Homo sapiens: one gene and its partners. The protein of the gene in region 1 interacts with the protein of each later gene in a pairwise test. Each region holds a gene or a part of one and is shown in the gene's direction. Other genes may lie near its edges. The genes, in order: MIPOL1, TTC12, KIAA1328, FMNL2, CCDC33, ARNT2 and RNF6.

Region 1 (3,500 bases):
TTCATGTTGTGGGAGGGATCCAGTGGGAGATAATTGAATCATGGGTGGTTTCTCTCATACCGTTCTCATGGTAGTGAATAAGTCCATGAGATGTGATGGTTTTATAAGGGGAAACCCCTTTTGCTTGGCTTTCATTCTTTTTTGCTGCCGCCATGTGAGATGTGCCTTTCACCTTTCACGATGATTGTGAGGCCTCCCAAGCCACGTGGAACTGCGAGCCCATTAAACCTCTTTCTTTTGTAAATTGCCTGGTCTCAAGTATGTCTTTATTAGCAGCGTGAAAACGGACTAACACAGTAAACAGACTAACACAGTAAATGGACTAATACAGTAGAGTGGGGTGCTGCTGAAAAGATACCTGAAAATGTGGAAGTGACTTTGAAACTGGGTAACAAGCAGAGGCTGGAATAGTTTGGAGGGCTCAGAAGAAGACAGGAAAATGTGGGAAAGTTTGGAACTTCCTGGAGACTTATTGAATGGCTTTGCCCAAAATGCTGATAGTGATATGGACAATAAAATCTAGGCTGAGGTGGTCTCAGATAGAAATGAGGAACTTGTTGAGAACTGTAGCAAAAGCAAAGAGACTGGCGGCATTTTGCTCCTGCCCCAGAGATTTGTCGAACTTTGAACTTGAGAGAGATGATTTAAGATATCTGATGGAATAAGTTTTTTGTTTTTTTTTTTGAGACGGAGTTTTGCTTTTATTGTCCAGGCTGGGGTGCAGTGACACGATCTCAGTTCACTGCAACCTCCACCTCTGGGTTCAAGTGATTCTCCTGCTTCAGCCTCCTGAGTAGCTGGGATTACAGGCATGCACTACCACGCCCAGCTAATTTTTTGTATTTTTAGTAGAGACAGGATTTCATCATGTTGGCCAGGCTGGTCTGGAACTCCTGACCTCAGGTGATCCACCCACCTCGGCCTCCCAAAGTGCAGGGATTACAGGTATAAGCCACTGCACCCAGCCAGTGGAAGAAATTTTTAAGCAACAAAGCTTTCAAGAGGTGACATGGCTGCTGTTAAAACACATTCAGTTTTTTTTTTTTAATACCTTAAGTTCTAGGGTACATGTACACAAAGTGCAGGTTTGATACATAGGTATATACATGTGCCATGTTGGTTTGCTGCATCCATCAACTCATCATTTACATTGGGTGTTTCTCCAAATGCTGTCCCCCGCCAGCTCCCCATCCCCCAACAGGCCCTGGTGTGTGATGTTGCCTACCCTGTGTCCAAGTGATCTCATTGTTCAGTTCCCACCTATGAGTGAGAACTTGCGGTGTTTGGTTTTCTGTCCTTGTGATAGTTTGCTCAGAATGATGGTTTCCAGCTTCATCCATGTCCCTGCAAAGGACATGATCTCATGCTTTTTTATGGCTGCATAGTATTCCATGGTGTAAATGTGCCACATTGTCTTAATCCAGTCTGTCATTGTTGGACATTTGGGTTGATTCCAAGTCTTTGCTGTTGTGAATAGTACCATATAAACATACATGTGCCTGAAACACATTCGGTTTTATAAGGGAAGCAGAGCATAAAAGTTCAGAAAATTTGCAGCCTGACCCTGCAATTGAAAAGAAAAACCCATTTTCTGAGGAGAAATTCAAGCCAGCTGCAGAAATTTGCCTAAGTAACAAGGAGCCAAATGTTCATCCCCAAGACAATGGGGAAAATGTCCCCAGGGTATGTCAGAGGTCTTCATGGCAGCCCCTCCCATCATAGGCCCAAAGGCCTAGGAGGAAAAAATGGTTTCATGGACCAAGCTTAGGGTCCCCATGCTATGTCCAAGGACTTGGTACCCTGTGTCCCAGACACGCCAGCCTTGGCTGAAAGGGGCCAATGTAGAGCTCAGGCCATGGCTTCAGAGTGCGCAGGCCCGAAGCCTTGGAAGCTTCCATGTGATGTTGAGCCTGTGAGTGCACCGAAGTCAAGAACTGGGGTTTGCAAATCTTCGCCTAGATTTAAGAGGATATATGGAAATGCCTGGATATCCAGGCAGAAGTTTGCTACAGGGATGGGGCCCTCATGGAGAACTTCTGGTAGGGCAGTGCATAAGGGAAATGTGGGATTGGATCCCCCACACAAAGTCCCTACTGGAGCACTGCCTAGTGGAACTGTGAGAAGGGGGCCACCATCCTCCAGACCCCAGAATGGTAGATCCACTGACAGCTTGCACCATGCTCCTGGAAAAGCCTCAGACACTCAACACTGATACGTGAAAGCAGCTGGGAGGGAGGCTGTACCCTGCAAAGCCACAGGGGCAGAGCTGCCCAAGATGTAGGAACCCACCTCTTGCATCAGTGTGACCTGCATGTGAGACATGGAGTCAAAGGAGATAATTTTGGAGCCTTAAGATTTGACTGTCCTGCTGGATTTTGGACTTGCATTGGGCCTATGGCCCCTTCATTTTGGCCAATTTCTCCCATTTGGAATGGCTGTATTTACCCAATGCCTGTACCCCCATTGTATCTAGGAACTAACTTGCTTTTGATTTTGCAGGCTCACAGGTGGAAAAGACTTGCCTTGTCTTGGATGAGACTTAGGGCTGTGGACTTTTGAGTTAATGCTGAAATGAGTTAAGACTTTGGGGGATTGTTGGGAAGACATGATTGGTTTTGAAATGTTAGGACATGAGATTTGGGAGGAACCAGGGGCGGAATGATATGGTTTGGCTGTATTCCCACTCAAATCTCATCTTGAATTGTAGCTCCCGTAATTCCCTCATGTGGTGGAAGGGACCCAGTGGGAGATACTTGAATCATGGGGGCAGTTCCCCCATACTGTTCTCCTGGTAGTGAATAAGTCCAGGTGAGTTCTGATGGTTTTATAGAACCCTTTCGCTTGGCTTTCATTCTCTCCTGCCACCACCATGTGAAATGTGCCTTTTACCTTCCATGATGATTGTGAGGCCTCTCGATCCATGTGGAACTGTGAGTCTATTAAACCTCTTTCTTTTGCAAATTGCCTAGTCTTGGGTATGTTTTCATCAGCAGTGTGAAAACAGACTAATATAGGTAGCAATAGACAACTACACTATTCATTAATATCAGAAAAGCTTTAATCTGTTTTTATCAGTTTAAACTTATTTGAGGATATGATATTATTATTATTATTATTATTATTTTTTGAGATGGAGTCTCTCTCTGTTGCTCAGGCTGGAGTGCAGTGGCACGATCTTGGCTCACTGCAACCTCTGCCTCCCAGGTTCATGCGATTCTTGTGCTTCAGCCTCCCGAGTAGCTGGGATTACAGGCACGTGCCATCATGCCTGGCTAATTTTTGTATTTTTAGTAGAGATGGGGTTTTACCACATTGGCCAGGCTGGTCTTGAACTCCTGACCTCAGGTGATCTACCCACCTCAGCCCCCCAAAGTGCTGGGATTACAGGTGTGAGCCACCATGCCAGGCTGAGGGCATGCTATTTTTATATCTTGAAAAACCAATTATTAACAGTTTTAACTATAAATCCCATACTTGTTTTTGGTTATAATTTAATTGCT
Region 2 (3,500 bases), on another chromosome or scaffold:
GCCCCCTAGAACTGGAGACGCCTGAACAAAAATGTCAAATGCACATTGTGTTCCTATGCCTGTCTCCTGCACTGGGAGCAGGAGGAGGTGAGGAGAAAATAATGAAGCAGCCAAGCCCAATGACACCCAGTGTCTTTCTCATAATCACCTTTACCCCAACCACTCTTCAAGGTCTTGTTTCTTTTTTCCAGTCTAGAGAGTGTTATAAGAAGATCTTAGAAATAAACCCCAAGCTGCAAACCCAGGTGAAAGGTGAGCACGTTCCTGCTGAGGTCCTTCATCTGAACTCCACCTCCCTCTGCCCCCTGCCTTAGAATGCCTTCCGTGCTTTCACTGCCCTTGGCCACTAGGCAGCGGCGGATCCTCTTTCCTGCACAGTTGGGTCCTCTGTGTTAACCAGCCCACTCTGCTCCTCTGTTTGCTGTGCTCCCTTGCAAATAGTAATATTTTCCTTCTTCATTTTCTACACCATCCTCCCTTAGACACTTTTAGACTCCCTTGAATCCCCAACAAGGTTTAAGATTCTGGTTGTAGATTTAGACTGTTTCTAAAATTTTCCTTGCTAACGAAGAGTTTTAATTATTTTAATGCTTTATGCTTCTCAAACTCCCATCCTCAAAAGAAAGGAAAAAAAAAGGTTGCTTCTTGTGTGGTATTGTTGATTGTTAGGGTTTTGTTTTGCTTTCCTTTCTTGTTTTTCTAGGTTACCTGAATCAAGTAGATCTTCAGGAAAAAGCAGACCTTCAAGAAAAGGAAGCCCACGAACTGCTGGATTCAGGAAAGAACACAGCCGTGACCACCAAGAACCTCCTGGAGACCCTTTCCAAGCCTGACCAGATCCCCTTGTTCTATGCTGGGGGGATTGAGATCCTGACTGAAATGATAAATGAGTGTAAGCCAGAGATGTGTGTGATCTCATGAGTGCTGTCAGTGTGAAGGGACACATTCAGAGGTCTGCCTTTACCAGGCCAAGAATCCCTCCCTTCCTTCCACAAATATTGATTAAAGATATACGCTAATGTAGCTGCTAAAAGGGGTGCACAAGAAATGTCCTCCGACTTCTGCTCCATCCTCTCTACAGAGCATGCGTACACTCAGCACACATGCAATAAACATACACAACACAACACGTACACGTGGCACACACTCGATATATACTTACATACACCACACATGCACTCAGCTTTCACTCACTTGAATATATCCTTGTATTACACACACACCACATACCACACACAGCACACTCACACCATAAGTACTCATGTCAGTCCACATATCCTGCGCACACTCCACCCTCACATTTTCACCACACACCCCATGCACATCCTGCGTGTACTCCACACATACCCCCACAGACACCTCAAGCATCCCATACCACCTCGTACACCTTCCCTCCACTGTGGAGGAATGGAAGACAGAATTTTGTAGGTTAAACTGTAAGGTTCACCCAGTTACAGTTAATGGCTGCATAGGATGTGAAAATGGTTTCAGAGCAAACATCAGCTCTCCTACTAATGAGGGCCATACTGTTCTCTTTTACTAGCTCTTGTAAACATTGTTACCAAGGCTTAAATAATCTCTATACTCAGTGACAGCATGTTGTTTGTACAAATAGATGGAGTGTCTGACTTCTCTTTAGTGTACAATGGAGGGCACACAAATATCCCCTTCAGCAGTTTCTTGGAGATTATAAATTCCTCTCTGGAGCTTGGAAATAGCTTTGAAATAAATATTTAAGAACAGATGGATATGCTGGTACTTCCCATAGGTTAAGCAGCTCTGGGAGGCTCTCTGAAGATTACAGAATGATGAGCTGTGCAGATAGCCCTCGGGGCCACCCCAGCTCTGCTCTCCTTCTCTAAACAGTCCCTCCGCCTGAGAGGCACTGAGGCCTCTGACGCTGAGAGGCTGCTGACCATTGTATGTTTCAAAATGTAAAGTTCATTTGTTCCTGCCAAACCATTCACGTGGGTACCGTGGCATTCCATATTAGGTTTCTCATTAGCAGGTGGCTGTGTTGCAGCGAGACACCAGCCAGCCAGTTTGGGAGTCTGAAGTGGTTTTCTTTGTATCTGTTTCAGGCACAGAACAAACTTTATTCAGAATGCACAATGGATTTAGTATCATCAGTGACAACGAGGTCATAAGAAGGTAGGGATGTTCATAGAGACAGCCCAGCAGCAAAGCAAGGGAAGATAACCACTGCTTATGAAATCAGACACGAGGCACATAGACAGTCACGTTTCTGAACATTACCCCCCTTCAGTCAGTAGTGGGGGGCTCTCCAGGAGTGCAAAGCTACTCCACGAACATCTTTGAGTGCTTTCCCTCAAGACATTGGAGTTACACTGCAGCTAACAATTGAGGCTGGGCGCGGTGGCTCATGCCAGTAATCCCAGCATTTTGGGAGGTCAAGGCGGGCGGATCACTTGAGGTCAGGAGTTTGAGACCAGCCTGGCCAACATGGTGAAACCCCGACTCCACTAAAAATACAAAAATTAGCTGGGCATGGTGGCAGGCACCTGTAATCCCAGCTGCTCAGGAGGCTGAGGCACGAGAATCGCTTGAATCTGAGAGGCGGAGGTTGCAGTGAGCCGAGATCACGCCACTGTACTCCAGCCTAGGCGATACAACCAGATTCAGTCTCAAAAAAAGGAAACAATTGAAGAGAGAGGAACAGCAGCACTTCCCAGGGCTCCTCTAAGCTCTTCAAAGTCAGAGAAATGATCATTCTTGCTGCTTTCCCACCAGTTTTTGCCAGGTTGTCATTTGTTCATTTCTTCTTTTGGAATTTGCTGATCATATCAAGAAGTGATATAAATATAAATGGGCCAATCCCATTTATAATTTCATCTGAAGAAAGACCTGTATGGTAGGATGCAGTTTGCTAAAGTGACTGTATTTTCATTTCAGTTGTTCTGGTGTGCTTCCTGAGGCTTAGGATACCCGTGTGGGTTGGAGTCACCAGTACATGTCTGTGTGCTCAGCCACAGTTCATTGGTCCCAGTGCAGCCATCGCCCATGGCCCTGGCTCACTGCCCAGCCTCTGTGCAGCCCTGGCTTCCTCAGTCTGCATCCGTGGCCTGGGACTCATGGTTCCGTGATTGATCCTGGTGACCCATGGCTCTGGATTATAAAACTATACTTTCTCAAACCTGTATTTGGTGAATCTAGGGGTGAAATAAAACCAAATGGAAAAGAAAATCAAGACTGATTTTCAGACTTTTAAGATAGCTCTCCTTTGTCCATTCTAGGTGTTTTTCCACAGCAGGAAATGATGCAGTTGAAGAAATGGTCTGTGTGTCTGTTCTCAAGCTCTGGCAAGCAGTGTGCAGCAGGAACGGTAAGCCTGGGTAATCACCGTTGATCACCATTAATGCGCTGCGTGCAGGAACTACGCTGTTGGGTGGACTGTCCTCCCCAAAGGCCAGGCCCTGGAAAGCTGATGTCTAGACTTCCGCACACACCCACTCCCTCCAGGAAAGCTTATGGATCAAAAG
Region 3 (3,500 bases), on another chromosome or scaffold:
CAAAAGAACTACATTCTGATCTGTGTGGCATTGGTAAATCAAACTGATGAGAATTGCTTTTTAATTAGGCATCCTTTTTGATTTTTATTCTTGTGAATTTATTTGATAGATGAACCCTCGTAAAGATGAGGGACAAATCAATGACTAGGCATAGTAATAGTATCGGTGCATTCCTTTGGCACATGTCCTATCTGACCAGTTTATTTTACTTTAATTTTTGTTATATTTTCCCTCTGCAACCAGAGTTGTTCAATACCACTTCACACTCACTAGGATGTCTACACAAAACTTGTATATGAATGTTCTGGAATCTATAACCTGTGGACCAAATCCTTCTGCCTGTTTTATAAATAAAGGTTTTTTGGAATACAGCTGTGCTCATTGTTTTACATAATTGTCTATGGTTGCTTTTGTGTTACAATAGCAGGGTTGCTACAGAGACTGCATGCCCACAAGCTAAAAACATTTACTATCAGACCTTTTATAGAAAACTTTTTTCAGTCTGTGAATTATGTTCTCAAAGATATTTCCAGTGCCTCATTTATTACTACAGGATTTTACTGTGATTGAATCAAAAGGCCTACTTTACGTTACTTGTACCAGTGTACCCACTTCACACTGGGGTGTGAATAGTTGAATTTGCAAGTTCTTATCAAAAAAAGTTAAAAAATGTTTTTTCACATAATGGTTGATTTGTTTTACATTGAACAATAGCCTTCTTTTAGATTAAGTTCATATTTTTGTCCTATTGGCTATAACTTTTGATTGGATTATTTCAGTGGCTTCTTTAGAGATTATAGTATACATCTTTCATTTATCATAGCCTATTATCAAGTGATATTTTCCCACATTACCTATAGTTTAAGGACCTTTCAACACTGTACTTTATTTCTCACCTCCTGACTTTTTTGATATTGTTGTCATACATTTTACTTATGTGCACAGACCCCAAAATACATATTACATTTGCTTTAGTCAACTCTCTTTTTTTTCAAATTGAGATATAATTTGCATATAAAATTCACCTTTTTAAAGTGTACAGTTTATTATTTTGATTTTGTATGTGTTTATATTCACAGAGTTGTGGATCCATCACCACAATCTAGTTTCGAAACATTTTTATCACTCTAGAAAGAAACCCCATACCAATTAGGCACTTCTCATTCCCCAGTCATCTCAGCCCCTAGCAAACACTAATCTGCTTTCAGTCTCTATAGATTTGCTTGTTATTGATGTTGCATATAAAAGGAAATCACATAATATGTGGCCTTTTGTGACTGGCTTCTTTGATTTAGCATAATGATTTCAAGGTTCATCTATTCTGTATCATTACTTCATTCCTTTTTATGTCTGAATATACATTTTGTTTATCCATTTATCAGTCAATGGACATGTTCAACTTTCTAGCTATTATGAATAATTCTTCCATGATCATTCATATACAAGTTTTTGTGTAGACATATATTTTCAGTTCTCTTGTGTATATACCTATAAGTGAATTGCTGTGTCGTGTAGTTTTATGTTTAACCTTTTGACAAAATTCCAAACTGTTTTTTAAAGTGGTTACACCATGTTACATTCGACTAGCAATGTATGAGGATTCAGATTTCTCCACATTCTTGCCAACATTTATGTCCATCTTTTTTGAGGATGGCCACCCTAGTGGGTGTGAAGTGGTAATTCAATGTGATTTTGATTTGCATTTCCTTAATGACTAAATGATGATGAGCATGTTTTTATGTGCTTCTTGGCTATTTGTGTATCTTCGTCAGACAAATATCTAGTCATATCCTTTTTTAACTGAGTTATTTGTCTTAGTACTGTTAAGTTATGAGTTCTTTCTAAATTCCATTTACAAGTCCCTTATCAGATACATTATTTGCTAATATTTTTTCTCATTCTATGCATTGCCTTTTCACTTTTTTATTGGTGTTCTTTGAAGCACAGAAGTTTAAAATTTTGATGAAGTTCAGTTTATCTAGTGTTTTCTTCTGTCTCCTTTGCTTTGGTGTCATATCTGAGAAATTGTTGCCTAATCCAAGGTCACAAATATTTGTGCCTATTTTTTTTCTAAGAATTTTAAAGGTTTTACTCCTACATTTAGTTCTCATTCCATTTTGAGTTAATTTTTGTATATGGGGTGAGGTGGTAGTTTAACTTTATTCCTTTGCATGTAGATATCCAGTTGTCCCAGCACCATTTGTTAAAAAAACTGTCCTTTCCCCTTTGAATTTCTTGGCACCCTTGTCAAATATCTGTTGACCATAAGTGTAAGGGTTTATTTTTGGACTCTCTGTATTCTGTTCCATTGATTTATATTTTTATTTTTGGAATTAGGAAGTATAAGTCCTCCAACTTCTTCTTTTTCAAGATTGTTTTGGCTATTTTGGGTCCCAGTGTTTCCATAGGCATTATAGAATCAGCAAATGTTTTATACTTTTTGATGTTATTAGAAACACAGTTGTTTCTGAATTTCACTGTTGGATTGTTTATTGCTAGTATATAGAAATTCAGTTGATTTGTGAATTGATCTTGTATCCTGCAACTTTATCAAACTATTTCTAATCTAATAGTTCTTTTGTGAATTCCTTACCATTTTCTCTATATAAGATGAAGTTGTCTGTGAATAGAGATAGTTCACATATTCTTATTGGATGCCTTTATTCCATTTTGGATGCATTTTATTTTAATTGCCTTTTAAAGAAATTTTACAAATGCAACAGAAGTCTTTTAAATCTACTCATGTAGTTACCATTTCTGGTGTTTTCATTCTTTCACGTGTATCCAGATTTCCTAAAAGACTTCCTTTAACATTAGTTCAGGTATGCTAGGAAAGAATTTTTTCAGCTCACGTATGTCTGAAAAGTCTTTATTTCTCTTTCCTTTTCAAAAGATATTTTTGCTGGTTATAAAATTCTGAGTTGATAGTTTTATTCATTCAGTGCTTTAAAGATGTTGCTGCACTGTTGCCTGGCTTGTATTGTTTTTAAGAAGTTGGCTGTCATTTTTATTCCTCCTTATTTTTCTGTGTGTATGTGTTTAAATATGGCTGCTTTTAAGATTTTCTTCTTATCACTGGTTTTGAGCAATTTGGTTATAGTATACCCTGGAGTAATTTTTTTTTTTGAGGTGCAGAGTTGCTGTGTCGCCCAGGCTAGAGTGCAGTGGCACGATCTTGGTTTACTGCAACCTCCGCTTCCCAGGTTCAAGTGATTCTCCTACCTCAGCCTCCTGAGTAGCTGGGATTACGGGCGTGCACCGCCACACCCGGCTAATTTTTGTATTTTTAGTAGAGATGGGGTTTCACCATGTTGGTCAGGCTGGTCTCGAACTCCTGACCTCATTATCTGCCCGCCTCGGCCTCCCAAAGTGCTGGGATTACAGGTGTGAGCCACCATGCCCATCCTACCTTGGAGTAATTTTTAAAGTATCTCTTTTGTTTGAGGTTTGTTGAGCTTTTTGGGACTGTGGGTTTATAGTTTTCATCAAATTGGGAAATG
Region 4 (3,500 bases), on another chromosome or scaffold:
GAAAACAAAATTTCCAGAACATAATACATTGTGATTCATTAGTTGACATTGGCTTTTGAAGAGCTTTCAGGTGGAAATGTGTGTAGGGGTGTTCTGTGTGGTCTAAAGAGTAGAATTCCCCAGGGTCAGTGACTGAAAGTCATATGAGCATAGGGAAAAATATTCTAACATGTAGAGTTGTTGAAAATGGATGGTGAGTTCTCCGTTAAAGTTATTCAGATAATCTGTGTGACAAACACTGGTGATTGGAAGGCCCTTTGCAGCCCAAGAAGATAGGAAGTACATTATTGGCTCGAAAGTTGCCCTCTTTGAGGTGAGTCTGCAACTTGCAGGTTCTAGACATAGAATTATAACACCTGAGAGTGGGGAAAGATCTCCTGGTAGGTGCTTCCTGGGCTTAAAGAAGAAAAAGATACGTATGGGCTGATGTTTGTTCTGGAAATTCATTTGACTTTATAAGAACTGTTGCTTAAAGGGTTTGGTCTTAATGAACAGTGCTCTTCTTTTTCATATTTAGAGCTTGGGGAATAGGGACAAGGTAAAGTGGGCTCTCCAGCCCTCAGGTTTAAGCAAGTAATAGATGTCAAAAAAGTAGCTAATACAAGAAGCACTGATTATAGATGATTGCCCCTCCTTTGCAAGAGGACGCTGTAACTGGAGTACTTTTAGGAACAAAGCATTGAATCCTTATAAAAGAAGGAACAGCCTAGAGGAACTTAGGAGGGAAGGTGAGTTACAAGCTATACAGTTGCTTGGCAGATCTCATCTTGTAGAGCGGCTCTTTATGGAGTGCCACTGCCATCCCTGCAAATAAGAAGTGTGTCCCTAGGCTTTGGAGTCATGGTTCCTTAGAGAGCCTTCATGTACCTTCTTAGTTCTCACCTACTTGAACACTGGGGACAGAGATAGCTCATTGCTTGTCTTCCCTTTAGAATTCCATCTGTTCATACTGCAGGGTGATCTTCCTCCCTCCTCCCCAGTGACCCCTTCCTCCTTTCCAGAAACCTGTCTTTCAACATAAATGCCAAGGACTATGCAGTTTCCAACTGATAGCATATAATTTGGAAGCAATGTCTAAGGGAAGAGCTGTTAGGTTGGAGAGCTGCCTCTTGAACTGTGATCTCAACCAAGGCCCGGAGATGTGGACCAGACGGGCTTGGAATTCTGAAATTGGGCAACATTCAGCCCTATTTACCAGGTATGATGGTATTTGATGTTGACAGATAAAAATGTACATTCTTTTCACTCTCTGAAAAAACAAACAGAAAAACATGACCATCAGTGTTCACTGGTAGGCAATTATCACAAACTCTCTATGATTTCTAGTCTTGTATAGTTTCTAGGACAAACTTCATATAGTTTCTGTGATTCCATGATCTTCAGTGTTCTTGTTTAGCCTGTAATTGACTTTGGTGACTCTCATTTCACATGTAACCTTAGTCTCCTTTTTTCTTTGCAGAAGTTCTGATGCATTTGTAAGCCCCTGTAACCATTGCCACAGAAGCTGAAAGCCTTGAGGTGTTTAGACCCTGCTATCCCCAGAAGTAATCTCACTTGACTGACTTCTGTGCATAGAAGATGCCCATGGCTTGGTTTTGGGAATGATGTCAAATATCAAATAGTTCATATTTTTTTGTTTTGAGATGGATTCTCCTTCTGTCATCTGGGCTGGCGTACAGTGGCGTGATCTCAGCTCACTGCAACCTCTGCCTCCTGGGTTCAAGCGATCCTCCTGCCTCAGCCTCCTGAGTAGCTGGGATTACAGGCACGCACCACCACACCCAGCTAGTTTTTGTACTTTTAGTAGAGACAAGGTTTCACCACATTGGCCAGGCTGGTCTTGAACTCCTGACCTCAAGTGATCCACCAGTCTTGACATCTCAAAGTGCTGGGATTACAGGCATAAGCCACCACACCCGGCTTAAATAGTTCACATTTTTGACCATGTGCCTGGTGCTGGGACACTAACGTGTGACTGATGGTGCTTTTAAATAACACATCTCACTAGTCTCAAGACCTGTCTTGGTTGAGGGTTTGCTCAGGAACCTGACTTCCCTTCCTTGTTTTTTTTCTCTCCGTGGAAGTTTGGCAGAACACCTTATTTAAGCTAGAATAAGGGTATTGGTAAGTTAAAGTAGTGGTTCTCAAACTTGGTTGTGCATTGACATCACTTGGCGATCCTCAGAAAGTACAAGTGGGCCAGGTACAGTGGCTCACGCCTGTAATCCCAGCACTTTGGGAGGCCAAGACAGGAGGATCACTTGAGGCCAGGAGTCCTAGACCAGTGTGGAGCAACATAGGGAGACCTCATTTCTACTACTAATGAAAATTAGCAGATGTGGTGGTGCATGCCTGTAGTCACAGCTTACCTGGGAGGCTGAGGCAGGAGGATTGCTTGAGCCCAGAAGTTTGAGGTTGCAGTGAGCTATGATCATGCCACTGCACTCTAGTCTGGGCAACAGAGCAAGACTATCTCTAAAACAAAAACAAAAACAAAAACAGAAACCCACAAATGCCTGGGTTCCACTCCCAGAAATTCTGATAAATTTGTCTGGAATGTGACCTGGGCATCAGGATTTTTAAAAGCTCCCTAGAAGGTTTGAATGTGCAGCCAAGGTTGACAGCCACTGTGCTAGATGTTTTCCCCCTTTTTCTTCCTACCCCAAAGACCAAGCCAATTTGCCTATGAGTTAAAACCAGCAGAAAACAAGATAATGAGTGTAATAGAAAAGGGATTGTTTAAGAAGTTAAACAAAATTTTGGATAGATTAGGCAAAATTGAGAAGGTTGAGAAGAGTTAAAAAAATGAAAGATATTTGATTCAACTAAAAGCAACAAGATGAAAAAATACAGAAGAAAAGGATAAATCCTGTTGAATGGTAGAGAGACTTTATTTAACTATTTAAGAAATGACCACCAAATTATCATAATGAAAATTTGTGAGAAAATTCTATACATATGGTGTAAGATTAAGCAATGACCCAGAAGTATACTTCTGGAGTAGAACAATCAATAAATCAATTGCATTTTTGCTTAGGCCTCCATTCTGTAGCCTAATTGTTTGTTGGTTCAATGCAGCCCTTTTGCTTTGATCTCTGGTTTTACCATTTACAAAGACTTGATGAGCTTGGCTTCCTGTAGTGAAATTCAAATATACTTGTGAAATGTAAACAACATTCATTTATTAAGAATCCTATAATCAAGGCAAATTGGCATGCTTATATAAGCAATTAGCCTTGAGAATAGAAAGATAAATAGGATGCTAGGTCAAGAATGAGCTGATTGTTCTCAATGCAAGACTCTAGTTATTTCTTTATTCATTATAATGTAAGCAAATAGACATTCCTCTTATTCATAATTTTTAGCATTTGTGGTTTGGGGTTTGAGGACAGCATATGTGGTTTTCTGGAACTGAGAGGATAGTAGCAATTATTGTTTCATTTTGATTTAGAAATATAAATCAATCTTATAAGGAACTGTAGGTAGTTGATTTATGACTA
Region 5 (3,500 bases), on another chromosome or scaffold:
GCTGCCTTGGCCAGAAGGCCCAGGAGAGTTGGGGGGTACATGGAATAAAGCATTCCCTGGAATGCACCCCTGGAGTGAGCAACTGGGTCCAAGCCATGGACTGAGGGGCCTGAGGCTCCTCACTCCAAGGTTGGGCCTCCCAGGCCAGACCCCTGCCTGTCCTCCCTCCTAGTGCTGAAGGGTAAGGGGTAGAATTCACTCTCTCATTGCTCAAGGACTTATGAAGCACCTACTATGTGCCAGGTAGTGAGCCAGAGATGAACAGAAGCATCACATTCCCCTCCCCACTGTGCATTCCAGACCCTGAAAGTGGTTGAGAGTAAAGAACAATGTGAAGCCAGACTGTCGGGGGTCCTAGACCAAGTTTGTTGCCTCCTAGCTGGATACCCATGGAAGCCACTTGGTCCCCAGGCCTCCATCCTCACTGGCAAAGCTGGCACAGTCGTTTTGAGGATCTCAAGCAATGATAGGCAAGGTTCCTGGCATACAGTAGGTGCTCAGTTTGGTCAGTTACCCTCCCCCATCCCTCCTCCGGGCCAGCACTGAACTTTCTTCTAAGCATTTCTTCAATCATGGCACCAGGGGGCTTTACCTTCTCTTAGGCCCCATGAGGAACCCCAATCCCAGGGCTTCAGGATGGGCCATGCAGGGAAGTAAAAGAGAGATGTGCTACTCACCCTGGGAGACTCAGCACTTGAGCTGTAATTCTGGGGGCATCACCCAGGCCCCCTGGCTGTCTGTTCACTTACAACCCAGGCCTTGTTATCACATCTTTACTGGAAAGCAGACAGGCAGTGGTCCTTGTGAGGGTGATGAAATATTCAAATGGAAAAGGGAAGATTTATTATATTGATCTCCTTGGAAGGGCTCACAGGGACCATGAGCTTTAATTATCAGCTCGGAGCCCCAGCGGAGCAATGCCAAGTGATTGTCTGCAGAGGGCTGGATTTATGGCCAGGATCTGCCCCTTAGACACTCTCCTTCCTCTGTGTCTTCTGCCCCAACCCTGTCTCCAGCCCACTGAGTCTGGGAAAGCCGATGAAGCCACTGCCAAGACCCAGTTGTACGCAACAGTCGTTCGGAAGAGCAGCTTCATACCCCGCTACATCGGCTGCAACCACATGGCTCTGGAGGTACCAGGGCTGGGGCCCTCTGGGGTGGTGGTGGGGGTGGGAAAGGGCCAAGCTTTGAGCAGGCCCCACGCCTTGCCCTTAGCCCCCTCTGGCTGACCTGAGGGTGTGGAGCAGAGATGTCAAGAATGGAAAAAGCAACCAGGCCTTTCCAAAATAGCAAAAGGAGTTGTGAAGACAAGCCCTTTGGCAGGGATGACAAGGATGAAGATGCTCAAGCCTCTTCTCCTTCCCTCTCTGTCTTGGAGGTGGCGGGGAGGGGCTCAGCCACACTGCTGCTCCTGGTGTACCGTCTCTGTGCTGCAGTGGGGACCAGAGCCTGTCTCCCCGAATCTTATGCTAGGGGCAGGGGAGAAGCCCCGTGCTCCCCCTGAGCCCACAGCCCAGCAGTTTCCTGCTCTATTCTTCCCCTCCTGGGATAGTGCCTTGGCCCCCAAGCAAAAGTTTAGGGCCTCCTTGAGCTTTCCTTCAGCACTGTGTCTAAAGAGGTTTGACTGGTCTGGCGATTAGGTATTTAGTTTATTCATTCATTTATTCATCCAGCAACTGTTTACAGAGCCTCTTCCATTAGCCAGGACAGGGCTGAGCCCACCTTGGGCCTGGCCACTGCCCCTTGACCCATCACCATCCACCCCCTAGGCCAATTAGCAGCTTTGGGAGGAACTCTTGATGCTCAAAGCAGACATGATGCAGGGACCTGGCCCCTCTCCCATTCCCCCCAACTTTCAAACTGCCCATGGGTGACAGATTCAAATTCAGCTATGGCCTGAGTATGATCAGGGTGGGAGCCACAGGACCCAAGCTCTGAGCTTCCACCTACCCAAACATGGCTGATCTGTTCCTATCCTTCCCACCCCCCTACTTCCCACCAGCACCGTGGGCCTGGCAGGGAAGGAAGCATTCTTTTGCCTTCTTTCACAGCCAGGGACACTGAGACCCAAGGGGAGTATGGTATGGGAGCCAAAACTCCTAACCCACATTTCTACTCCCCTACAGCCACCCCTCTGATGCCAGCATATCAGACCTACAGGCGCCCTCTGCTCCCCGCCACCTTCTATCACGCCCTTTCCTGAGGACAGCCAGCAATTCACACACACACAGAACAAGGAAGAGGGGCAACAGCCTGGCCTTGCTGTCCCCAGGCCGCACCCCACAGGGAGGAGGCCACATCCCCAAGACACAGGCAGAACTTTAGGGCTGCTGTGGAGCTGCCCCACCCCACCCAGCCCTCTGACTTGCCTGGTAGAGCGGTAGAGTAGGGGCCTTCTCTGGCTCACAGCACCCTGCCCACTCTCCTGCCCCAGCACAGATGCCCTCTCCATCCGTGCGACAGGTATGGCCACAGAGCAGCTGCCTGCTCCTGATGGTGAGCGCATGGCAGGAGCAGGAACTTCTGCTACTTCCCAGGCTGTCATGAGCAGGTGTACTTGGGCAGCTGTCTCATTCACACCTGATCAGAGTCCACACAGAACAGGTGCAAATTAGCTGCCACCACCCCCTTTTTAGTCTTACACCTGCTGGGGAGCCTGTGAGCAATAGGGCCTGCCAGCCTCCAGTGAAATCCCTCAGCCCCAGACCCCAGACCCATCCAAAGTGTGAAATGTACCATCAGAGATTCAATCCTTTGAATGTGATGAAGGGATTCAGTCTCCAGAGCCCTCAGTGAGAGCTGCGAGGCCCTAAGGACTATTGTACGTGCCCATCAGCTCACACCTGTGTGGGGTTAGAGGTGGGAAAACCAGCTGAGATGGGTATTGAAAGAGGAGCCTGAAAGGAGGGTGCGGAGGGAGAAAAGGGAGAATGATCCAGAACAAGCCTCACTCCTGGGCCCTCGCCAGCCACAATGGGTTGGTGGGAGCTGCAGGGAGTCTGAGTAGAGGGATCAGCATGTGCAAAGACCCTGTGGCAGAAATAAGAGGGGTAAGTGGCAGGAGTAAAAGAGTCTGGAGCAAGAAGACAGGGGCTGGGGGCCTGTCGGGAGACACGGCAGAGGGGCTTGTGGGGTGTCGGGCAGGGAATAACGTGACCCAGTTCATTTTTAACAAGAGCACTTTTGCCATCATGTGTCAAATTGCCTGGGAAAGAGGATGGATTAGGGAAAGGAACAGAAGTGGAGAGGCTAGTGAGGAGGCAGAGGAATCGAAGGAGCAAGAGGAATGAGAGCCGAGTGGGAGGTGGGTGAGGGCTGAGGGAGAGTGGGAGCCATTGGTGGATACAGGGTGAGGGTCAGGGTCCGGGAGATCAGGGCCTCTTAGGCTGGCAGCAGAGGCGCATGGGGACAGACTCCCTGTCTCCCCTGTCTGCCTTCCAGTGTCCCCCAGGCCCAGACTGAGCAGGGGGTCAGTGAGGGTTGGAGCAAGGTGACGCTGT
Region 6 (3,500 bases), on another chromosome or scaffold:
TGGATATAATACAGGTCCAAATTTGGAATCTGCTCCTTCAAGGTCCCCTGTTGGGGTTTTAGGTTAGGATTCTACCAGCTACTCTGGGAGAGGAGAAGAAAGGATTGGGCTCCCAGATATTCTCCTCATGACTTCTGCTATGACAGTCCTGGTTATATTCCTCATATCCTGTGGCCCCTGGTGCCTCCTCCTTCTGGGTCATTTACAGTCCTTACGTTGGTCACTGAAACTGTTGTATTGGCTGATTTTCTCTTTTCTCTCTGGCCAGGAATGACATATATCCTTTAGACTAGAGAGTGAAGTCATAGAATCTTCCGTTTTGTGTGTCTGTGTGTGTGTGTGTGTGTGTTGTTTTGCTGCCTTTTTGAATGACATTTAAGTGTTTCTGATGTATAGGAAATAGTGAAGATTTGAATTAGTTATATACATAAAAGGGTATTTGCAGCTGAAATGGCACAATTAAGAAGGAGATTGTTTCCCCAATGTCATTGTTCCATCTTAATCTTTTGTAATTTAAGCATGAGGGAATCAGCTACAAATTCAGACCAGTAATCATTAGGAATTAAGCATTATGTGGACATTCTCTGAGATGAGTATTTGCAGAGTAATTAATAAGGCTCATATGTTTTAAAGGATTTCAAAATTATGTTTTAAGAGATTTGGAATTCCACTTTTTTTTCTGAAATCAATTATTGGATTTTTTCCCCACTTCCAGGTTTCTGGTCTTTGGCATTTCAATTTGGAATTAATTGTATAGTGCAGGAAGATTCTCTGGACAAATTGCCTTAGATGGAGGGACATTTGAATCAGCTTGTTGAACTGATTGGATATCTTTGATATGCCAAGCTGTCTGCAGGGAATAGAGCAATGTGGAGATGAGGGAGAATATTTCTTGACCTCAGGGGGTTCTAAGTCTACTAGGGGAGGCATAGGTAGACTAACTTAATAACACCAGGTGGAATGAAATGAACGTTGACTAGGCATGTTCATATCATCATGGGGAGCCAGAGGAAGTCTTATGGGAGGTAACTTCTGAACGTGGGCCTTTTGAAGACAGAGATTTTGACTTATAGAGAATTTAGGAATGGTCATTTTGCGCTGATGGCTGGCGTGTGAGGCAGACAAGATTTGTGAAAATATGGAATACTGTCAAGTGGTTGCTTCCTCAGTGCTCTTGGGGACTCAGCAGGACACCCAAGAATGTGGGTAGGTTTTGAGCCTTTGAGACGTGTGCGCTATGCTTGCAAGCTGTCCTGCCTTGAGTAGGGCTGGAACAGCCAAACCAGCTGGACATACAGTTGAGCCCAATTTCTCTATATCCTGTCCTTCATTGAATCTACGAGCCCATCAGTTGCAGGACACATCATTCTTTTATGGACTTATAAGAAAAAAATGAGCTGATGGCATTTTGGCTTTCATCAAAAGAAAGAAAAAAAGGAAGAAGTGATACCTGAAAAAAGAGATTTATTTATTCCTTCAGTATATATTTATTTTAATTAATTAATGAATTTTAAAAAGTTAATTTTTAAAGGCTCCTTTTTTAGGGCAGTTTTAGGTTCACAGCAAAATTGAAAGGAAGGCACAGAGATTCCTCATATATCCCCTGCCCCCACACATGCACAACCTCCCCCATGATCAACATTCCCCAGCAGAGTAGTACATGTGTTACAATTGATGAACCTACAATGACACATCATTATCACCCAAAGTCCATAGTTCACATTAGGATTCACTCTTGATGGTTGGTAGACGTTCTATGGGTTGGACAAATGTATATGACTTATATCTACCGTTATAATATCATGCAGAGTATTTTCACTGCCCTAAAAATTCTCCATGCTCCACCTATTCATTCCTCCCACTTCCGAATTCTTGGCATCCACTGATGTTTTTACTGTCTCCATAGTTTTGCCTTTTCCAGAAAGTCATGTAATTGGATTCATGCATTACGTAGCCTTTTCAAACTGGCATTTTTCACTTAATAATATGCATTTACATTTTCTCTGTATCTTTCAGTGGCTTGATAGCTCATTTGTTTTGGTGCCGAAGAATATTCCATTGTCTGGATGTACCACAGTTTATTTATTCATTCACCTACTGAAGGACATCTGGGTTGCTTCTAAGTTTTGGCAATTATGACGAATGAAGCTGCTAGGGGCTAATACTTACTGAGTAACTACTATGTGCCGGGGACTGATCTTGGTTCTGGGATCACTGTGGTGAGCAAATTAGGTATAACTCCTACCATCATGCTGCTTGCTAGCAAGACAAATAGTCACAAAAGAGTAACACAATTGGGTTAGTTATGAAAAGTGTAAATGTTATGAAGAAATGATCCCCTGAGATAAAATAACCAAGGGACCTAAATTAGAGGATTAGCAAAGGCCATTTGAAGTCAGTGAAAGCCTCTCTGAGGAGTTGACCCTTGAGTCAAGCTCCAAGGAATGATGAGAAATGTGAGGAAGAGCATTCCAGGCACAAGGAAGAGCCCCTTCAAAGGCCCTGAGTTGGGAAGAGCTGGAGAACAGGGAGCAAGGGTGAAAGCGGTGTGAGAAGCTGGAGCTGCGGTAGAGGCCAGCTCACGGGGGACCACTTTTGGGTTAGGGACTGAGACTTCATTTTTAAAAAGCGCTGGAAATCTACTGAAGGGGGTTTGAGCAAGGGGCATGATCTGACCTGCACTTTTAAATGCTGCTTCTGGCTGCTGTGTGGAGAGCCAATTGGACTGAAGCGGGAGGAAAAGTAAGACTCCAGTTAGATGGTGCTAACTTAGGTCAGGGGCTGTCAGTAGAGAATGAGAGAGAGGGAGGTGGATTTGAGTTATACTGGGGGCAGGGATGCCATGCTGAACAACTCCAGGGGCACCAGTTACTTCCCTGTCCATCCCTTGGGCACGACATGTCCTGCTTGGGGCAGAATCATCATGACTTCATTGTAAGGAGTTAGGGGAAGAGTCAAGGACGATTCCCAGCTTTCTGTCCAACACCTGGGTGGTTGGAGGTGACAGGAAGTTAGTGAGAGGCAGGGGGCCTGTGGGGTGTGCTCCAGGCTTCAGTATTGGACAGCTGAGTTGAGCTGCTTGTGCGACAAGCAAGTGGAACTGTCATGGAGGCAGTGGGACACATGCTCCCAGAGATCTGGGCTGGAGAAGGAAACAAAGAGGGATGTTGGCCAGCCATTTACCAGGTTCTCTAAATGCTTTCCTTGGGGTAAGTTAGTTCACAGAACATAGAGCTTTTGGTCCAAGTACCATAGTTCCCAAACAATGCTTGCATTTACTGCTTTATTGTCTGTCTTTATTGAGATTCACTAAGACACAAGGTCATAGGGAGATTATTTCTGCATCTTTTCCAGATCCAGCAATCCATTCATTTTTATCTATCTATCTATCTATCTATCTATCTATCTATCTATCTATCTATCTATCTATCATCTATCTACCTACCTATCATCTGTCTACCATCTCTCTCTCTCTCTCTCTTTCTCTTTCCCTCCTTTTG
Region 7 (3,500 bases), on another chromosome or scaffold:
TTTAAAGCTTTGTAACTATGTAAATAGTAATTTAATTTTTATAATATGCTTATAGTAGATATACTTTTCTTTTAGAAAGTTGTCTTTTTGCCATCTTTCATTCATTAAAATCCACAGATGTTCTTTAATTTATTACAAACTTTGTTTTTCTTACAAGTTTTCAATAAAGCTGTAAGGTGTGTCTTAGGAATTGATCTTAAGTTGATTTGCTTTGCTTTCTAGACTCAGAAGTCCCTAGAGAAAGTTCACATGAAGATTCTCTTCTAGAATGGTTGAACACCTTTCGGCGCACAGGAAATGCAACTCGAAGTGGACAAAATGGGAACCAAACTTGGAGAGCTGTGAGTCGAACAAACCCGAACAATGGAGAGTTTCGGTTTAGTTTGGAAATCCACGTAAATCATGAAAATAGAGGATTTGAAATTCATGGAGAAGATTATACAGACATTCCACTTTCAGATAGTAACAGAGATCATACTGCAAATAGGCAACAAAGGTCAACTAGTCCTGTGGCTAGGCGAACAAGAAGCCAAACCTCAGTGAATTTCAATGGTAGTAGTTCCAACATTCCAAGGACTAGGCTTGCTTCAAGGGGGCAAAATCCAGCTGAAGGATCTTTCTCAACATTGGGAAGGTTAAGAAATGGAATTGGGGGAGCAGCTGGCATTCCTCGAGCTAACGCTTCACGCACTAATTTCAGTAGTCACACAAACCAATCAGGTGGTAGTGAACTCAGGCAAAGGGAGGGGCAACGGTTTGGAGCAGCACATGTTTGGGAAAATGGGGCTAGAAGTAATGTTACAGTGAGGAATACAAACCAAAGATTAGAGCCAATAAGATTACGATCTACTTCCAATAGTCGAAGCCGTTCACCAATTCAGAGACAGAGTGGCACTGTTTATCATAATTCCCAAAGGGAAAGTAGACCAGTACAGCAAACCACTAGAAGATCTGTTAGGAGGAGAGGTAGAACTCGAGTCTTTTTAGAGCAAGATAGAGAACGAGAACGCAGAGGTACTGCATATACCCCATTCTCTAATTCAAGGCTTGTGTCAAGAATAACAGTAGAAGAAGGAGAAGAATCCAGCAGATCCTCAACTGCTGTACGACGACATCCAACAATCACACTGGACCTTCAAGTGAGAAGGATCCGTCCTGGAGAAAATAGAGATCGGGATAGTATTGCAAATAGAACTCGATCCAGAGTAGGGCTAGCAGAAAATACAGTCACTATTGAAAGCAATAGTGGGGGCTTTCGCCGAACCATTTCTCGTTTAGAGCGGTCAGGTATTCGAACCTATGTTAGTACCATAACAGTTCCTCTTCGTAGGATTTCTGAGAATGAGCTTGTTGAGCCATCATCAGTGGCTCTTCGGTCAATTTTAAGGCAGATCATGACTGGGTTTGGAGAACTGAGTTCTCTAATGGAGGCCGATTCTGAGTCAGAACTTCAAAGAAATGGCCAGCATTTACCAGACATGCACTCAGAACTGAGTAACTTAGGTACAGATAACAACAGGAGCCAGCACAGGGAAGGTTCCTCTCAAGACAGGCAGGCCCAAGGAGACAGCACTGAAATGCATGGTGAAAACGAGACCACCCAGCCTCATACTCGAAACAGTGACAGTAGGGGTGGCAGGCAGTTGCGAAATCCAAACAATTTAGTTGAAACTGGAACACTACCCATTCTTCGCCTTGCTCACTTTTTTTTACTAAATGAAAGTGATGATGATGATCGAATACGTGGTTTAACCAAAGAGCAGATTGACAATCTTTCCACCAGGCACTATGAGCATAACAGTATTGATAGTGAACTAGGTAAAATCTGTAGTGTTTGTATTAGTGACTATGTAACTGGAAACAAGCTCAGGCAATTACCTTGCATGCATGAATTTCACATTCATTGTATTGACCGATGGCTCTCAGAGAATTGCACTTGTCCGATCTGTCGGCAGCCTGTTTTAGGGTCTAACATAGCAAACAATGGGTAAGGTGATGGGATCTACTCAAATACTGTTTTTTAGTAGAACTGAATGTTCAAGCATTGTTTTGCTGAGTTATTTGTGATTAGCTAACCAGGATGAAAAATAACAGATTATATATAGTTTGAACTATTTTTCGTGTGCTTTTTTAAACTTGTTAAAAAGAAATTTATATAAAATTTAAAATACAAATGTTAAATTATCCAGAAATACAGAATAGTTAATATTGCTAGAACCAAATAACCTCTAAAATGTTTTTATTTTGGTAATTTTGTCATGCTAAGCACTTTTGTATCTGCACAATTCAGTAGGTTAAGAATCAATCTTCTTTTTCTTAATAGTACAGCAGACTTTAGCTTCAAGTTTCATAGGCTTAGTACTTATATCTAGACATTTGTGTCTAAATAAGCTTTTCATTAACTTTTTATTTTAAGGACAGTATCTTTTCATGAAAGAGTATTTGGCTGAATGTTTGCTATATATATGTTACTTGAAATGTTAAATTTAATATGCAGCATACCATAGGTGTATATATAGGTATATAATTTTAAGGTTAAAATATTCAGTCTACAAGTTTGGTTCTTATTTAAGCTTTTGGGCTAATACTGCATATGGCACAATGTTTAATATTGGCAAGTTCATCTCAGAGAAAGGGGATTCAGATATAATTTTAAAGTAGAGATAATTTACTGAAGCGTCTCTGACAATCTAACTTATTAGACAGCAAGCAATATATAATACTGAAAAAGTATTCAGAAATGGAAAATTTACATCATATAGGTTATTTAACTTGTGTTCAGCCTTTTTGTAACTTTTTTGAAAGTGCAAACAATTCTTTGGATTATTAAATAAGGTATACAGTATGCATGGTTTCTCAAATTTAGTTTTAAAATCTAAAAGTCTATAAAGAATCAGATGCATAGGCAATATGTTAAGTTCACTTGGAGGCTAAAAATCTCCAGTGAAAACAAAACGAAAACCTTTAAGAGAATGTAGAGTTTATATAAACACAAAGTATGCATTGAAGATCTGTTTCTACCAATAAACATTAAAACAAAGACTGTATGTGAACTATGTTTTTCTGTTGTTCCACTGTGGTTTATTCACCCTCCACTAATATTTCATACTAGATGCCAGGCAGTGTTATGGGATAGAGTATTTCCCAGACGACAGACAAAAGTCCCTGGCTTCATGGAAAAGACATATTTGCTCTTAGAAACTGAATATCAATTGATAAAGTGAATTATTATTCTTACTTTCATATTTGCTTATTAATATATGACAGGATTTTCTTGTGGTGATACTGTTTGGGCAAAATCACAAGAACAGTACTTAGGCCAGATTCTGTGAGATTTAGAAATATCTCCACATTTAATTTTCCTTTCTGACTGGTGACTATGTTCAATTCATTAGGTTAGATGCATGCCCAGGAATGTTAAGGAGTGCATTTACATGGAGTAAAAGGTTTTCATAAAAGTTGTGACTTTGTTTGGAGTAAATTATTTATGTAGGTCAGTT

Evidence for each region.
Region 2: the proteins of MIPOL1 (region 1) and TTC12 interact in binary tests that used the Homo sapiens proteins (3 or more experiments, as listed by UniProt).
Region 3: the proteins of MIPOL1 (region 1) and KIAA1328 interact in binary tests that used the Homo sapiens proteins (3 or more experiments, as listed by UniProt).
Region 4: the proteins of MIPOL1 (region 1) and FMNL2 interact in a two-hybrid assay, tested with the Homo sapiens proteins (one large-scale study listed by BioGRID).
Region 5: the proteins of MIPOL1 (region 1) and CCDC33 interact in a two-hybrid assay, tested with the Homo sapiens proteins (one large-scale study listed by BioGRID).
Region 6: the proteins of MIPOL1 (region 1) and ARNT2 interact in a two-hybrid assay, tested with the Homo sapiens proteins (one large-scale study listed by BioGRID and IntAct).
Region 7: the proteins of MIPOL1 (region 1) and RNF6 interact in a two-hybrid assay, tested with the Homo sapiens proteins (one large-scale study listed by BioGRID and IntAct).

What each region holds. Positions count from the first base shown.
Region 1 is NC_000014.9:37,204,437-37,207,936, forward strand, and holds part of MIPOL1 (mirror-image polydactyly gene 1 protein), read left to right. Parts: intron 1-3,500.
Region 2 is NC_000011.10:113,338,583-113,342,082, forward strand, and holds part of TTC12 (tetratricopeptide repeat protein 12), read left to right. Parts: intron 1-9; coding exon of another isoform or gene 10-87; intron 88-191; coding exon 192-252; intron 253-703; coding exon 704-892; intron 893-2,081; coding exon 2,082-2,151; intron 2,152-3,254; coding exon 3,255-3,343; intron 3,344-3,500. UniProt on the Homo sapiens protein: Cytoplasmic protein that plays a role in the proper assembly of dynein arm complexes in motile cilia in both respiratory cells and sperm flagella.
Region 3 is NC_000018.10:36,835,627-36,839,126, forward strand, and holds part of KIAA1328 (protein hinderin), read left to right. Parts: intron 1-3,500. UniProt on the Homo sapiens protein: Competes with SMC1 for binding to SMC3. May affect the availability of SMC3 to engage in the formation of multimeric protein complexes.
Region 4 is NC_000002.12:152,341,674-152,345,173, forward strand, and holds part of FMNL2 (formin-like protein 2), read left to right. Parts: intron 1-3,500. UniProt on the Homo sapiens protein: Plays a role in the regulation of cell morphology and cytoskeletal organization. Required in the cortical actin filament dynamics.
Region 5 is NC_000015.10:74,267,326-74,270,825, forward strand, and holds part of CCDC33 (coiled-coil domain-containing protein 33), read left to right. Parts: intron 1-1,016; coding exon 1,017-1,133; intron 1,134-3,500.
Region 6 is NC_000015.10:80,407,382-80,410,881, forward strand, and holds part of ARNT2 (aryl hydrocarbon receptor nuclear translocator 2), read left to right. Parts: intron 1-3,500. UniProt on the Homo sapiens protein: Transcription factor that plays a role in the development of the hypothalamo-pituitary axis, postnatal brain growth, and visual and renal function. Specifically recognizes the xenobiotic response element (XRE).
Region 7 is NC_000013.11:26,212,315-26,215,814, reverse strand, and holds the end of RNF6 (E3 ubiquitin-protein ligase RNF6), read left to right. Parts: intron 1-222; coding exon 223-1,991; 3' UTR 1,992-3,040; downstream 3,041-3,500. UniProt on the Homo sapiens protein: E3 ubiquitin-protein ligase mediating 'Lys-48'-linked polyubiquitination of LIMK1 and its subsequent targeting to the proteasome for degradation. Negatively regulates axonal outgrowth through regulation of the LIMK1 turnover.